2 separate regions of the Homo sapiens genome follow, and region 1 is linked to region 2. The links come from fine-mapping of genetic effects on gene expression. Tissue or cell type: skeletal muscle. Region 2 holds a variant in brackets; the other region holds the start of a gene. All regions are shown on one strand. Distances are from middle to middle.

What was found. PIP is the estimated chance that this variant, and not a neighbour inherited with it, causes the effect.
Region 1: it holds the start of FEN1, and the variant in region 2 is fine-mapped to the expression of FEN1 in skeletal muscle (GTEx, PIP above 0.99).

The regions. Positions count from the first base shown.
Region 1 is chr11:61,789,660-61,797,754 of GRCh38, reverse strand. FEN1 (flap structure-specific endonuclease 1) reads right to left here and starts at 4,844. Exons shown (of 2, transcript NM_004111.6): 1 at 4,727-4,844; 2 at 517-2,414. The coding sequence starts at 2,393. The coding sequence ends at 1,251. TMEM258 (transmembrane protein 258) reads left to right here and starts at 5,156. Exons shown (of 4, transcript NM_014206.4): 1 at 5,156-5,199; 2 at 7,153-7,262; 3 at 7,834-7,970. The coding sequence starts at 5,197. The coding sequence ends at 7,960. It overlaps MIR611 (microRNA 611), which reads left to right and starts at 5,194; the gene lies at 5,194-5,260. RefSeq lists enhancers at 1,909-2,409, 3,955-4,930, 4,844-5,138, 4,931-5,908.
Region 2 is chr11:60,910,883-60,918,984 of GRCh38, reverse strand. It overlaps TMEM109 (transmembrane protein 109), which reads right to left and starts at 4,827. Exons shown (of 4, transcript NM_024092.3): 1 at 4,717-4,827. It overlaps TMEM109-DT (TMEM109 divergent transcript), which reads left to right and starts at 4,922. Exons shown (of 2, transcript NR_186356.1): 1 at 4,922-5,025; 2 at 5,508-5,819. LOC124902676 (a long non-coding RNA gene) reads left to right here. Exons shown (of 2, transcript XR_007062688.1): 2 at 1-1,369. PRPF19-DT (PRPF19 divergent transcript) reads right to left here. Exons shown (of 2, transcript NR_186697.1): 2 at 8,085-8,102. RefSeq lists enhancers at 1-148, 2,919-2,968, 4,029-4,198, 3,593-4,591, 5,590-6,588 and 1 more and a silencer at 4,379-4,538. The variant T/G (reference allele first, on the strand shown) is at 3,515.

The DNA of each region.
Region 1 (8,095 bases), 880 kb before region 2:
ACAGGAATGCTAAAACGTCAGACATTCAAATGGGCCAAGCTTTATCAGGATTATAAAACTTTCAAAGCTCAAAAACATGCCATCTCTATGGGAAACAGTATCTTGGATTTGATGTTACAAAAGGAACAAGAAAATGGTTTCTGAATGGCAGCTTTCAGTTTACAAGTAGTGGCAAAGTAAATGCTTGGATGTTATGAGGTAGTTGATCTAAATTGTGAGGCTTTCTTAAAGGCACTCCTTTGATCTCATGGAGTGAGAGACTAGAAATCTATTCAACGTATTAAAACTCCTCTCCCAGCAAAATAAAATAAACAAAACATCCTCCTCCTAATGGCTGAAGTTCCATCTAGCTGCTATGGCCATTTTATGGAGCATGGTGCCATCTTGTGGCCACTCTCAAACCACCCATTGTTAATCAAGTGCAATTACAGCATGTTAAGAGTGAAAAGGAAAGCTATTTGGAGCCATGGTCACTTGGGATATTTTCAAATGTTCTCAAAGAACATGACATTTTGGTTACTTTTAGAATTTTATTGACTTTTTTCTTCATAACTTTAAAACAAAAACAGCGCATGAAAACCAGTGTCTTATTCCAAAGTCTCAACTCAGCTGATTGCCAGGTGAACATCACCATCTTACTCCTCTGAATAACTAGACACAAATTACATAGCAAGTTCGAGTTTCTGCCCACCCAAGACACAGCCAGTAATCAGTCACAAACACAGACACAGCCAACTCCAGGGGCTCCAGCTTTCTGCCCATCTTCTCTCAGCAGTTCCTCCCATCTGCTAAGATGCGCCTTCCTGGTGGCTCTCTCTCAAGGTGGGTCAAGGCTGAACAAGACAGAAAAGCACAGTCTAGGTCCACCATCACCTCCCACTGGCCACCAGTTGGCCAGCCAGGAAATCATTTCTGTACATCTTTTGTCTCCCCCTTTTATCTCCCTCTCTCTTCTCCAAAACTTGTTGCTATCTATCACTTTCATGTAACAATGGACTTAGTGTCCATTAAACTGCCTGAGAAGTGGTTTGAGCCTGACATATTTTCCTGAGCTAAAAAAGGAAAAGTACCTCTGTGGCCTTCTTGCCATTAAGATCAAGTAAAAAAGGGACTAGCACTACTGAAAAGGGTCACGCTAGAAAAGCCTTAGAATCCTCTCTCCACCCCGTGAAGGTTTCTCTAGCTGTAGCTCTTAAGGGTACAAGACGGCAAATATTCTGGGGTGAAGGAGGTATAATGGGGAAACACATTTATTTTCCCCTTTTAAACTTCCCTGCTGCCCCAGTCTTTGCCTTCTTCTTAGTGGATCCCTTGGGTTCTGGCTCCTTGCGCTTAGCTGAAGAGAGTGAGCCGGTCACCTTGAAGAAATCATCCAGGCGGCCCTGGGTGCTGCCTTGGCGGCTCTTACTCAGCCTCTTGACCCCACTGCGGATTCGCTCCTCAGAGAACTGCTTTTCACCACACATGAACTTGATCAGCTCTTCTTCATTTGGCTCGCTCCACTTCAGCTCCACAGACTCTGGGTCCAGCACCTCAGGTTCCAAGAAGAGCTGGTGAGCCTCCTTGTGGAGCCAATTTTCTGGCACAGGGTACTTGTTGGGGTCAAGTCGCCGCACGATCTCCTCGATGCTCTTGTGCTTCTGGATGAGGTCCACAGCCCGCTTGGGCCCAATACCCCGGATACTCTCACAGTAGTCACTGCCTAGCAGGATGCACAGATCCACAAACTGTTCCTGGTTCAGGCCCAGCTCCTGCAGAATCCGGCTCAGGTGGAATTCCTGGATTGGCAGCTTTTTGGCTTCACTGGCAGTCAGGTGTCGCATTAGCACAGGGCTGCCGAAGGTGAGGCAGTCCATGTCCTCGGTAGCCGCAGCATAGACTTTGCCAGCCTTCACCAGGGCAGCACAGCTGGCCTCTGCCTCACTGGGTGCATCAAGATAAGGGATGCCCATGAGGCTCAGCAGATGTTTGCACTCATCATTGTGCTGCTTAGTGACCTTCACCAGCCGCTTAGTGAATTTTTCCACCTCCTGCTCGGCCCCAGCAGCCTGAGCCTGCTGCAGCTGCTTCTCTGCCTCAGCCCGCCGCTCACTGCGTTTGGCCAGCTCGCCTGACTTGAGCTGTGGCGGCTTGCCATCAAAGACATACACGGGCTTGATGCCGTTCTCCATCATGCGAATGGTGCGGTAGAACATGCCCATCAGGTGGCTGGTGGTCTCACCCTCCTCATTCTGCAGCACATCCCCACCCTGGCGAACAGCAATCAGGAACTGATAAATGCTCATAGAGGCATCAATGGCCACCTTACGGCCAAAGTAGCTCTTGATGTCATTCTCCCGGATGGCACTGGGGGCCACATCAGCAATTAGTTTGGCCAGGCCTTGAATTCCCATGGCAACACAGAGGAGGGATGACTAAAAAAGAAAGGCAAGTCAGAGACGGAGGAAAGGAGAAAGGTTATAACTGGTGTTATCTCACCAACTTCATGCCTTCAACTAAATTCCACACAACAAAAAGGACACCATGTCAGCACTGCTAAAGATAAAAAGATGAACAAGGTCCCCATTCTCAAAAAACTCAGTCTAGCAGGAGAATTTACTCAATAGTAAGGCTCAACGAGTACCAGAAATTGAACCACGTGCTTAGAGAAATAAGATACTGTTGATATTCTAAGGTAGCAGCATTATTTATTACACAAAAAAAACCTGCAACATAGGTCTCCATCAAGGACCACAGAAGGCCAGGATGCTTGGCCTGGCTTGAGGAGTCCAGGGACCATAATGGCAGACCTGAAAGACAGGCAAATACACCAGCTAAACAAACAGATCTGATTTGTTTTGAGTCTCTGGAGAACCCTGACTAATAAGGCAGCCTTGAAAAAGGATTGCAAACATATCTGAATGGAGGTGATGTGGCTTTCTCACAAGCTTCTCTAAACTCTCTTCATCATCGCCTCAGCACATAAGAGTTTCTACTTTTATTATAATGTTGCTAGAGTTTCAAGTCTTTCCCTTTGCGTTTTCTCGCCACCACTCAGTCTGAAATGTTAACTCCATGGCTCCTCCCCAGGTCCTGATTTAGGGGTCTGGCATGCTGTAGTCACTGGGCTCAAAAGAGTATTGCACTTCAGAGTTCAGTGTTTCCCAGATAGCAGTGTTTCCCAAATCACCCTCACGATTTTTGCTACTTCCAACTAAAACCCGTACTTTCATTCACTTAGAATTTTTTTTAAAAAACTAAACTGGAAAACTCATAAGCAATAATATTTGTGTTCTATTAGTTATATTTTAATATGTATTAAATGTATAACTATTAAAAAGGATTTTTAGGGGGTGCAATTTAAAATCATCTTGCCATCCTGGCCAACACGGTGAAACCCTGTCTCTACTAAAAATACAAAAAAAAAAAAAATTAGCTGGGTGTGGTGGTGTGCACCTGTAATCCCAGCTACTCGGGAGGCTGAGGCAGGAGAATCGCTTGAACCCAGGAGGCAGAGAATGCAGTGAGCCGAGATTGTGCCGCTGCACTCCAGCCTAGCAAGAGAGTGAGACTCCGTCTCAAAAAAATAAAAAACTCATCTTGTGCCCACTGTTGGTATGTGTCCAATACTCCAAGAAATATTCTACTGGGGCCAGGCACAGAGGCTCTGGGCAGTAATCCCAGCACTTTGGGAGGCCGTGGTGGGAGGATCACATGAGCCCAGGAGTTCCAGGCTACAGTGAGCTATGATTGTGCCACCACACTCCAGCCTGGGCAACAGAGCAAGACCCTGTCAAGAAAAGAAAAGAAGACAAAAGAAAAGAGAAAGAAGAAACGAAAGACTCCATCAGGCCTTTTCATTGTTCCCACTCTTTCTTCACAGGGTTCTTTCTAGAGCATCAATGACTGTTCAATTCTTCCTTCTAATTCAGTCCAAACACTTCAGCATGGCATCACGATCTTTCATGTTCTGGTTCCCAACCTAACCCTACATTCTGGGATCTCAACAGAAAGCTGGAATAAGGCCCGCCTTTTCCCACTTTTCCTTAGCTGTGCCCTCCTCTCGCCATCCTCTCACGCGTCCTTCCAGGTCCATCCCTGGATTATTAATCAATTAATAATTAATTGACAATGAATTATTCATTTGATTAATATGAATAATTCCCCTGTGAACTGCAGCGGCAAAAGCTCTGGCCTTGAATCTAGGCGCGGCATTTACCATCCGTGTGACATTACCAAGCCACTGAGGTTTATTTTCTCGTCTACAGAAGAAGAACGATTACCATGCCTGTCTCTCAGGGCTGCTGCCAGGGTTAACTGAGACAACAGACAGAAACCTCTAATGTCCCCTCTCCAGGCCTGTTCAACCCTTCGGCTCTTGCCTCAAGCCGGCCGCGCTGCTGGAGTGTGGACTGAGGACCAGACCATGTAGCCCTTGATCCCCTCACGGCGTCCCACAGACAGGTAGGCAGGAAAGGGGCCTAAACAACTCAAGTGTCAGAAATGTTTCTCGTCCAAGGTCTTAGGAAAAATACAACACGACCCCATAAGGTGGAACTTATTACCGCTTTTCTACAATGGAGGAAAGAGAGGCTCGGAGCTTACGCGACTGGCCCAAGGCTCACAGGGGGAAAAGTGGCGGGACCTCTTGACTGCGAATCCCGCGCACTCCAGACCCCGGCTCCCCACGGCCCCCAGCGCCAAGCGGACCCCGTCGCTCCCGGAGGCGCTTCCCATGGGGTCTCACCTGGCCTTTGGGACACGCGGCCTCGGCGGCTAAAGCTTGGTTCGGGGTTGCCCCGGGCAGGCGGTCCTAAGCTCGCTCTCCCTTCTCAGCTTAGCGGCGGGTGGCCTGACGTTCAGCCGCCTTCCAAAGCCCGCGCTCCCGTCACGTGACCTGCTCGCCACGCACAGCCTCTTGGGGCGCGTAGTGCAGGCTGCGTCCCCTCAGACGGCTGCTCTCATGGCAACCAGTCCCTCCAGGGAGAACAGAGTCTCTCAGCGACCCTGGCGTACCCTTCTCCACCGCTTGTCCCCACTCCACCCACACCAGGTCCCCGCAGGCCCCTGCTCCCTCTACACCCGAAATCGCAGGACTACAAGTCCCTCAATGCCACTTGCGCCGGAGGCACTTCCTTTTCCGGTTGTGCTAGGCGCCTGCTCCTGCCGACGTGTTCTTCCGGTGGCGGAGCGGCGGATTAGCCTTCGCGGGGCAAAATGGTGAGAGCGTTGAGGGGAGTTCCAGACGGAGATGCGAGGACCCCTCGGGGTCTGACCCACACCGCGCTTATCTCCTCAGACGCCGGAGATCCAGAGGGCTAGACGCTCCTGGAACCTCCGGCTTGGGCTGAAGGGTGGGGAAGGGGGAAGCCCCTTGCCATGAACTCCTTAGGTTTCTCAGCTCGCGATTTCTAAGGGCGAGAGGCGTGGGGCGAATTTTGAATACCTTCCAGTTTGTATATCTCTGTTATCGGTGGTGTGTTATCTTTATTTGGAAAGTTCTTCTGCCGAACCCGTGCCCATCCTACAATGCCCTGGGCAAATGTTTATTGGTGAAGCACTTCCAACTCTCAGGCACTTGGCCAGACTTTCCTAGGAGCGCCCACAGCCTCTGTACAGATCTCTGGCCACGTTCCATGGACTTCTTTGTTTTCGGCCACGCCTCCTAGTGACCACCGTCTGACGCGCATCTAGCTCTGGGATGATGTCTATTCATCTTTGTATTCTCAGTGCCAAACAGAGGGCCCGTAATTGGAAGCTCAATAAATGGCAGTGATTGTCTTTATCATTTTGGGGGAAGGGGGCCGTGATTGTTTACTGAATTGAATTCCAGTGTCTCAGAACAATGGGGGCAGTTTACTTCTCTAGAGTTGTTATGTTCTGGATTTTAGAAGCATTGGCTGACCGGTGACAATGAAGTTAACATTTGTACAGATCTTTACGTTTACAGCCCTCTTTCATAAAAGACATTATCTCATCATCTTCCCTACAGCCTTAGGAAGGAAGCAAATACCTGTTGAGCAAAATACTCCCTGCTAGGCACTAGATGCTTTGATTCATCATCTTTCTTATTTTTCAGTTCTGTGAAATAGATATTACAGTCGCTTTACTCAGACTCAGATTACTCAGAACCAGAACTTGAATGTCTTGACCATAGCTCACAAGATTCCATAATAGCATAGGTAGTGAGGAAAATACTGAATTAGAAATTGAGGGCCAGGCGCGGTGGTTCACTCCTGTAATCCCAGCACTTTGGGAGGCTGAGGCGAGCGGATCAGGAGGTCAGAAGTTCAAGACCAGCCTGGCCAGCAAGGTGAAACCCTGTCTCTCCTAAAAATACAAAAAATTAGCCGGGCATGGTGGTTCACGCCTGTAATCCCAGCTGCTCGGGAGGCTGAGGCAGGATAATCACTTGAACCCAGAAGGCGGAGCTTGCAGTGAGCCGAGTTGGCACCACTGCACTCCAGGCACTCCAGCCTGGGCGATAGAGCAAGACTGTCTGGAAAAAAAAAAAAATTGAGCCTGGGCGCGGCAACTCACACCTGTAATCTCAGTACTTTGGGAGGCCGAGGCAGGCAGATCACCTGAGGTCAGGAATTCAAGACCATCCTGGCCAGCATGGCAAAACCCCATCTCTACTAAAAATACAAAAATTAGATGTGGTGGTGCGCACCTGTAATCCTATAGTCCCAGCTACTCGAGAGGCTGAGGTATGAGAATCTCTAGAACCCGGGAGGCAGAGGTTGCAGTGAGCCGAGATCGTGCCACTGCCCTCCAGCCCGGGCGACAGAGTGAGACGCCGTCCAAAAAATGAGACTCCGTCAAAAAAAAAAGATATTGAGATCTGGGTACCACCAGTCAGTGACTTATAGCGGGGGTTCTCAGCTTGGTGTCTATAGACACTGGTCCACAAAGCTCCGGAAATTGTAGGCAAACTTTTTCTTGTATGTGGTTTTTCTCAGGCAGAGAGTTCGTACCTTTAGTCACGTTTTCATAGTGGTCAGATTATTGGCCTCAGAAAATGCTAATAAGGGCCATTGATCTGCAGCTACATTTCCGGGCTAAAATCAGCCTCTGTTTCACGGCAGCACCAGGCTCCTTGATAACCGCATGTTCTCTCCAGGCTGAAATCGTGGGATTCTTTGATAGCTCTGATCTCTTTCCCTCCTCTAGGAGCTCGAGGCCATGAGCAGATATACCAGCCCAGTGAACCCAGCTGTCTTCCCCCATCTGACCGTGGTGCTTTTGGCCATTGGCATGTTCTTCACCGCCTGGTTCTTCGTGTATCCTTTCACTGAGCAGCCAGAGGACCAGCATTAGTGATGTGGGAAGCTCAGGGAGAAACCACGCTAGGTACATGGACCCCGCCGGTTTTGTACATTGGATTGGGGCTGAGAGAAGGTAAGGAGGAGAGGAGGGCTAGTGATGCCCAGGGGCAGGTTATAGCCTTATTTCCCAAGTTCAGGTGAGCTCAGTTTGTTCTTTGGATTTCCAGGACAGTGAGCAGGGGACCTGGCTGGAGTGGAGGTGGGGAATAGGGGTGCTACAGTTGGAAAGGTGGTATAAGGAAGGGTGCACTCAGGTGTCAGGAGGTCTGAGGGCTAGTCCCAGCTCCGGCCCTCATGAGCTGTGTGACCTGGGGCAAGTGACCTAACTCCTCTGGGTCTCATTTTCTTCATGGCAGTGGAGCACCAGAGTCCAAGGCATCTCTTAGGCCCCTCTGCCTGGCTGCTCTGAGCCAGATAGGCCTCCCAGAAGGCATTGAGCCAATGCTTTTCTCCTCAGATTGCCGTGGGCTGGGCTCTCTGCACTCCACAGTCCACCCCTTCGCTTTGCCTTAACTGCTGTGCCCAGTTACGAGGTCACCTCTACCAAGTACACTCGTGATATCTATAAAGAGCTCCTCATCTCCTTAGTGGCCTCACTCTTCATGGGCTTTGGAGTCCTCTTCCTGCTGCTCTGGGTTGGCATCTACGTGTGAGCACCCAAGGGTAAGAGCTGCAATGGGATGGATGCGTGAGCCTCCAAGGCACAGCCCAGGGAAGCCTCCCCAGAGTCAGGTCAGCAGGGTCCTTAAAGCTCTTACCAGCATGACCCCTTGGTTGATGGAGACAGA
Region 2 (8,102 bases):
CTGTGGGTCTCAACCATGGCTGCTCACTGGAATCACCTGGAAGCTTCCCAAGTACTGATGTCTGTGTCCCCAGCCCAGAGGTTCTGATATCATTGTCTGGGTGTGGCCTAGCCTTGGATCTGCAAAAGCTCCCTAGGCAGTTCCACTGCATGAAGTTGAGAACCACTGATACAGAGTGACCTCACCTCCCCACCCCCAATGGAGGTGCTATGGTTTGAAGAGCAAAACTCATGTTGAAATTTAACTGTTCTTGCACCTCCTGCAGAGCCTGGGAGCTCCCAGTCCAGCCAAGGATGTTGGATCTCATGGTCCTAAGTACTTCTTTGACACCCCATTCCCCTCAGTAAAATAGTTTGACCCCTTCTCCACCAAAAAAAAAAAAAAAAGAAAGAAATTTAATTGCCATGATGATGGTATTAAAAGGTGGGACCTTTAAGAGGTGATTAGGTTATGAGGGTTCAGCCCTCATGAATGGATTAATGCCGTTATCTTGGGAGTGGATTAGTTATCCCAGGAATGCAGCTCCTGATAAAAAGGATGACTTTGGCCTGATTTCCTGTCTCTGTCTCATGTGCTGGGTTCTGCCTTCTGCCATAGGATGACCCTTGCCAGATGCCAGCGCCATGCCCTTAGACTTCCCAGCCTCTGGAACTGTGACCCTAATGAATTTCTGTTCATTATAAACTACGCAGGCAGTGGCATTCTGTTATAGGAAGCAGAAAATGGACGAGGACAGTGAGCAAGGGTATAATGAACAACCTTTAAAGAAATACTATTAATAAAAAGCTAACATTCAGCTAGGTCTTGCCATGCACCACCGCGCTCATTTAACTGTCACAACAGCCCATCGGGTAGGTGTTGCTATTATCCCCCATTTTACTGAAGTAATTGAGGCAGGTTAAGTATTAACTGGGGAAATCAGCATTTGAATGTAGGTACTTCTGACATTGGACCCCTCATACACAACAACTCTGCTGTATTGTCTCCAACTAAGTCTCAGAAGTGATTTAGAAAGTCATACAGGCCAGGCACAGTGGCTCATTCCTGTAATCCCAACACTTTGGGAGGCTGAGGTGGGAGGATTGCTTGAGCCCAGGAGTTTGGGAGCAGCCTGGGCAACATAGGAGACCCTGTCTCTACAAAATAAATATAAATAAATAAATTAGTCAGGTGTGGTGGTGCGTGCCTGTACTCCCAGCTATTTGGGAGGCTGAGGGGGGAGGATCACTTGAGCCCAGGAGGTCACGGCTGCAGTGAGCTATGATCATGCCACTGTATCCCATCCTGGGCAAGAGAGCAAGACGCTTAAAAAAAAAAGTCACACAACAGATTATTCATGAGTTAAAATAAACTTGGCATCTACCAATCATCTCAGTGAATTACTGGTGAAAATTACCTAACAACTTTGTGCTTTGTGCTCTGGTCTTGTAACACAATGCCACAGACAAGTTAAGACCCAACAAGTGCCAACTCATTGAAGCAGGTAAGGATCAGCCAAGAAAAAGTACACAAGTTCAACTTCTACTTGCCACTGTGCTTGAGAAATGTCAGACAGCGCCAGCAAATTCCCTGTTCCCCTCCAGGTTCAGAAATGAACCTGTAGCTCCAGGAGTTTTCATGATTCAGACCTGATGATCAGAGGCTAAGCCATGCCCCTGAGGTAGGAGCAGTCAGGTTTTTGAACTTTTTGCAGTTACACAGGCACTCAGGGAGTTGACAATAAATCCAGAGCCATGAGGGATGGAGAAGGAAGAGAATGATGTCCTAGTCTTGCTTAGGGGGAAGGAGGAGAGTCTAGGAAAGGGTTCTAAAAATACTACATTTAGGGTACTTTTTGGTCCAGAAACAGCTGCTCTAAGCCCTTCCAGAAGCCTGGAGGGTCAAGCAAGGCTGAAAAACATGCAATTCATGTAGAAGGCCCTCAGGCTGGGAAAGCCTTCTACTGTCTTTGGCACAAATCAAGAACCAGATGGTTCCTGCCTGCCAGTGGTCGCAGATGAGGAAAGCACAGGTGAGTTCCTGAGCTATCTGGGTCATAACCATGTTGGGGACTTAAAAGAGCAGGGTTGCTATCTTGGGTTGGATCCTTTATCCAAGGACCTCCACCAGGAGGGATCAAATATCGTTTCCTCAGCCCTAGGAGGTCAGGGTGCCATAAGCTGCTCCTCCCACAGCAGCCTGCCTTGTTCTGTGCCAGCCCCAACTCTCCAGTGGCTGTCTGCCCCAGTTAAGGGGAGCTAGGAGACCTTGAAATAAGCCCTCTGCAGTGAGGCTGGCATCGTTATGCAGACTGATGTTCTGAAGTGCACCAGATACCAAACCTAACAGGATTGTGTAGTGTATCCTTTGGAGATAATGAGTGCAGAGATTGGCTGGCTGGTCTGCTTTTTCAAATTGTTTTCTTTAATAGGATTCCTTCTCATTTTTTTCCAGGTGAATCTCAGGCAGTATGGACTCACTGCTATTAGGCCTCCTCACTTTGGCCTAATCAAATAGTTTTACTAAAGGCATGGAAACAGTCTCAGCCTCTGAGAGGAGGAAGCATGTCTTAAAACTTCTTCACCTTCTGCAATGCCTGGCCTCAGACAAATAATAGGCACTCAATTAACAACTCATAATAATACAAATGTTATACATATCTATACATATACATATGTTATAATAATTTTTGTGTGGTGCTTTATAATTCACAGAGTGCTTATTGTTTCATCACTTCATTTAACTCTAACAACAATCTTTTAAGGTATTATTACCCTCTTCATCTTACTCAGAAAAGTATGGCTTAGAGAGGTTGAGTGACTTATCCAAGATCACACAGCAGAGCTGGGACTTGACTCCAGTACCCAGGATCTCAATCTTGCCTTTTTGCTTGTCCCATACCCGCATGCTGCCTTGATAGTGGACATAGTCCCTGCCCTCATGGAGCTGAAGTTCACCAACAAGCTCAAAGTGGAAGGACATCCAGACTCCTCCGAGGGAACACATACCAGGAGACCATCTGCCTTCTGGGCTTACAGGCCATGGTTTTGTACCAAGAGGTATGAGAGGACAGCAAAAGGTGGGAGACAAAACCTGCCACTTCTGTTCGGCAGCTGCAATATGGCTCAGGTGGGTCTGGAGAGCCCAGCCTGGCTGGGGAAACAGCTTTACTTATTGTGTTAGTGAGAAGGCGCCACTGCTTATGTTTAGCTGTGGTTTGCTACAAGGGTAGGATGGGGCATTTCGCGCCCCCCCCTCCCAATCAAGGCTCCTTCCTCCTCTTCTCTTTCCTTTTGTTAGTTTCATTTCATGCTATGAATCACCAGGTGGCAGGAGGGGCGGCAAAAAGTGCCCTCTACCGGCTCTGACTGTCCCGCCGCTGCTCATAGCTGCCCCTAAGGAGCGGCGGTTCTCAACTTTGGCTGCCCATCGGAACTGCCTGTGCAGCCTGTTAAACAAGGACGTCTGCCCCACCCAGGGCTACTCACTCAGACTCTTCCAGAGAGGGACTCAGCCCTTTGTTTTGCAAAGCTCC[T/G]CAGGAATTTCGGATGCATAGCCAGCAGCTCAGGGAAAAGTCTAAGCAAAGCTTCAAAAGTGCAGCAGTGTACAAAGGACCCCTGACTTCCGTCCCAGGCTCAAGTGTGCCACGGACTAGAAGCTACTACCTTACGCCTGTTACTTAACCTGCCTGAGTTGCAGTCTCCTCAAACGTAAAAGGGAGTGAACCCAGGTGAAGAGTTGCTGTAAGGAGTTAAGATATTTCTGCAGCAAGCGCTTTGTAAACTAAACATCTATAGAAATGTTGCAGCACACACATTACCACTGACTATATATCGTAGCATAATTTAGCAGTTTATCAACCTGCCTTCCCCAGTAGACCGAGCGACTCCCGGTTAGACTTGACATGTTGGAATCCCCAGCGCCTAGTAGGAAAGATGACTAATAAATGTTTATTAAATGAATATTAGCAACCTGCCAAGAAACCGTGAGGGTCGAACGAGAAAGCCATGGAGAGGTGAGGAGGGAGGTTATTTTAATAGTAGATCCAAATATACAGCAGCCACACGAGAAGCACAGCTGAGTCTAAAGGAAGGTCCTAAACAAGGCGAAGCCGCCACTGCAGAGAATGAAGTCAGCGCCCTGGCAGGTTGGGGGCAGCTCCCACTAAACCCCTGACAGCTGCTGCCCAGCAACTGTTTGGGGGCAGGGCGACGGCAAAGGGGCAGCTTCCCTGCCGCTCCGCGCCCTAACCGGGGCGCAGCCTCCCGGAGACAGGGTGTCAGTGGCATGTGCTATTTCGAACGGCGCGTCCCCTGCCAAGCGCTGAGGGGTAGCGTCGCTGGCAAGGAACGTGGCGCGACCCATGAGTTTGGGGCCCCCCGAAGGGCTCGAGCCGAGGCTGCAGGAGGCTGGGCCGTGGGTCGGGGTTCGGGGGCTCGGGCTTGGCGCTGGCCTGGTCCCCACGCCCGGGAGCCGCTCCACCTCTGCCGGACCTCGGAACCTCGCCGCAACCCTCTTCTCCCCGGAAACGTGCGCCTCCCGGGTTGCCTGGAAACGACGCCCCCGGTTGCATAGCAACGGGGATCCGGGTCCCCGGTTTGTTTCGCACGCTGGGCGCGCGGACCCCTCCCCACTCGGACTCTCCAGGCCTCGCGGCTCCGCCTGGTGCCGCCTGCAGCGGCTGCTGTCTCCCCTTCCCGTGCGCTGCCCCACATTCCGACCTCGGCCCGCTCTCACCTTTCTCAGGCCACTGCTATCCTTCACGTGCGACTTCGCTGAAACGCGCCACCAAACCCGCGCCTCAACTCGGGGCGCTGGTTTACCTTCTCCGCATGCGCAAGGCGGGATGAGCTCGGAGACTAGCCGGCCTTCCTCACAATCGAAGCCTGTGCCGGGAGCGCATGCGCCCCGCTTTATCTATTGCGTTTCTTTTTCCCCCCACAAGCATTCCCACCGAGAGAAGAATGGGATCGGAAGTTCCAGCAGGGAACGGAAGTCTCTGGCTGGAAAGGGGAAATAAGTGACTATATCTGGGCTGTAGAGTGGGTAAACTGGATCTTTGAAATCGGAGTGGAAGCTAATCCTCCTCTTGCCACCACTCGGCATTTTGGGTCATGTAGTTCTAGAGCTACAAATGTTCCCTGGGGCATTGTGGGCAATGTAGTTCTAACCGAGCCGCTAACGAGCACCTAGTCTTCCCATACACTTTTCGCGCTAAAAAGGCACAAAAGAGAAAGATATTAAAGGAGCAATTAAAAGCACACTGCTCTAGGAAAACGAATGCGCTCCCCCAGAGAGAAAATTCATACCTGAATACTGTAGACGGCTCCCAAATGTTAGCTCAGAATTTCAGAGAAAGAGAGGAACCAACTCTCACTCTCCTTTTTCTGCCACAAAGGCAGTGCATAGGGACAGGAGGCAGATAAATGCTAGGTAGAAAAGAGCGGGTCCCTGGTGAAACCCCACCCTCAAGCCAAAAAGCCTGAAACCATGGCCCAAAGTGAGAACTTCTATCCATGTTTTTCCAGTTGAATGTTGCCTTTTCCTAAGCCACCCATGGCTCTGCCCTGCCTCATCCTGTGCCTAGAAAGACCCCAGACTCATCTGGCAGAGAGGAGAAGCAGCTGGATGAGGGGACGACCATGGCTGGATGTCAGAGAGAAGCAGCTTGTCTTCAGAGGGACAGCTTAAGGCGTAACTTCTGAGACGAATCTGGCTGGAGATAGCTGGACTTCAAGGGAAGACTACATACCGGCCTGTCCCACCCCCCTCTTTTCAGCTCACCTTCCCTCTGAAATCCACTTTGATCAGCAATAAAATCCCAGGCATTTGTCCTTTAATTTGTTCGTGCAGCTTTATTTTTCTTGGACGCTGGACAAGAGCTCGGGAGCCACGAGTGCGGATACAAAAGCTGTCACGCTGGCCCTCTGCCCTTGCTGGTGGAGGGCAACCGCGGGCCCACGGAGCTGTTAACACTTAAGCTGTCCACGGACGACAGAGCCAAAAGAACACTGTAACATGCCCTCTGGGGCTTCAGGAGCCTCAGGCACTCTGCCTGGACACTGCCCCGGGGCCTGCACGGAGTTCGCTCCTGCCGGTGTCCAAAAGCGCACGCTCTGGCTCCTGCACCCACTCACCTGCACGCTCCCTCCTATGAGGGGTGGAACGCGGTGAATCTTGAGTGAGTGGAGTGTGATCCCACTGGTGCTGAAAAACGGCTGGCTTGTTCCAGCGCTTGTGCACTCCAGTTCCCGCCTTGTTCACTTGCGTACTCCCTCCCATGAGGAGTTGAGAGCAGCGGGCTGAGTAAACGGGGCACCCCTGTTGTGAGTCCTGTGAAAGGTCAGGGCAATATCCTGCTTCAGCAGCACCGTGAAGGAGAATGAACAGGGCTTCAGAATGAGGTGATCTCTTGCCTGTCGTGTGATCCTGAGCACACAGCTTCATTTCTCTGAGCCTTCATTGCTTGACGTTCAAGAACTATAAAGGACCTAAAAATACCACTTCACAGTAGGTGTGAAGTTTCAAGGAAGCAACAAGCATGAACATTAAAAAAAAAAAAAAAAATCCAGGTTGCTGACTGAATGTTTTTATCACCATCAAGAGCTGTCATAGGAGAGCTTCCTTTTGATGTTAAAACTTGTTTCTCAAACTCAACCCTCTAAAACGTAACTCTTCCCTCCCACCCCCAACCATTCAGCCTTCCAGTTCTGCCTTCCTCCTAGAGTACACACTCTGTAGGCTCCCAATCTGTCACCTCACCCAGTTGTTTCTTTCCATCAGATGTTCCTCAGACACATCCATCTTCATCTGAGCTCTTGTCACTTCCTGCCCCTCAGCTAAGAGTCCTTCTTCCAGGACAGGCTCTGGTAGCATCCTAAACCTCACCTTCCAGCTTTTCTAACAGTTTCAATTTTACATTTGCTTGTGCGATCCTTTCTGATGTCTAAGATTAACAATCTCAGGTCACAGACTTTCCTGGGAAAGAAATTTAACCTTTTTTTTTTTCTATGACAAATTAATTTCTTTTCAACTCTCTTTTCCATGTGGGTAGTAGAAACAGTCTCAGACAGTTCAGGGTTCTTCCCATCCTTGATTTTCAGGTCGTAGACACCTTTTGGAAAATGAATATAGGGCCAAAGTTGGGGGAGAAAATGTATCTAATCCTGGCCGGGGGCAATGGCTCACACCTGTAATCCCAGCACTTTGGGAGACTGAGGCAGAGGGATCACTTGAGGTGAAAGAGTTCAAGTCCAGCCTAGCCAAAATGATGAAACCCTGTCTCTCTAAAAATACCAAACAAAACTAGCCAGGTGTGGTGGTGTGTGCTGTAATCCCTACTCAGGAGGCTGAGGCAGGAGAATCACTTAAATCCAGAAGGCAGAGGTTGCAGTGAGCCAAGATCACGCCACTGCTCTCCAGCTGGGTGACAGTGAGTGAGACTCCATGTAAAAAAAAAGAAAAAAAGAAAATTCATCTAATTATCAGTGTCAGTTGTTTAAGCTGGCAACTTCTCCCTGACTAATCTTCTGTCACTTATCCACACAGATTGCTACTGAAGATACCTGGGAAATTAAGCTTCTTTTGGGTCTTTGGCCAATGTGTCCCCATGCTCCCCAGGCAGCAACAGCAGCTTTGGTCTGGGAGGAACAAGGCATAGAGTTCCTTCCTCAGGGACCCACCAGCACCAATGCATATATCTCTTTTCCCTTAACTCTCCCTGTTTCTCTGAAACCAAGTGCCCTGAATTTTTTCTATTCCCTGTGGGCTGGCTTATGAAACGGAAAAGCCTTGACAGGACTTCCTTTTTCCTGCATCCTGCTATCATAGCCATAAACTCCCCAGTAGAGGGACACCTCTGGTTTTGCTCATTGTGATACTACCAACACCTAGTATCGTGCCGGGCTGACACGCTATGGGTACTCAATAAAGATTGGTTCAACAATTAATTACTGAGTCTCCCTCCTTCTAGTCTGTCCCACTCCAACCCATCCAGTAAGTGTCTTCCAGAGGAAACTTCTGAAAGTATGGTTATCACTCCATAGCTCAAATGCAAACACATGCTGTTGTGCTGCCAGCCCAATCACCACCCAAGTTTTACCACCTTGGGTTCAAGGCCTCTC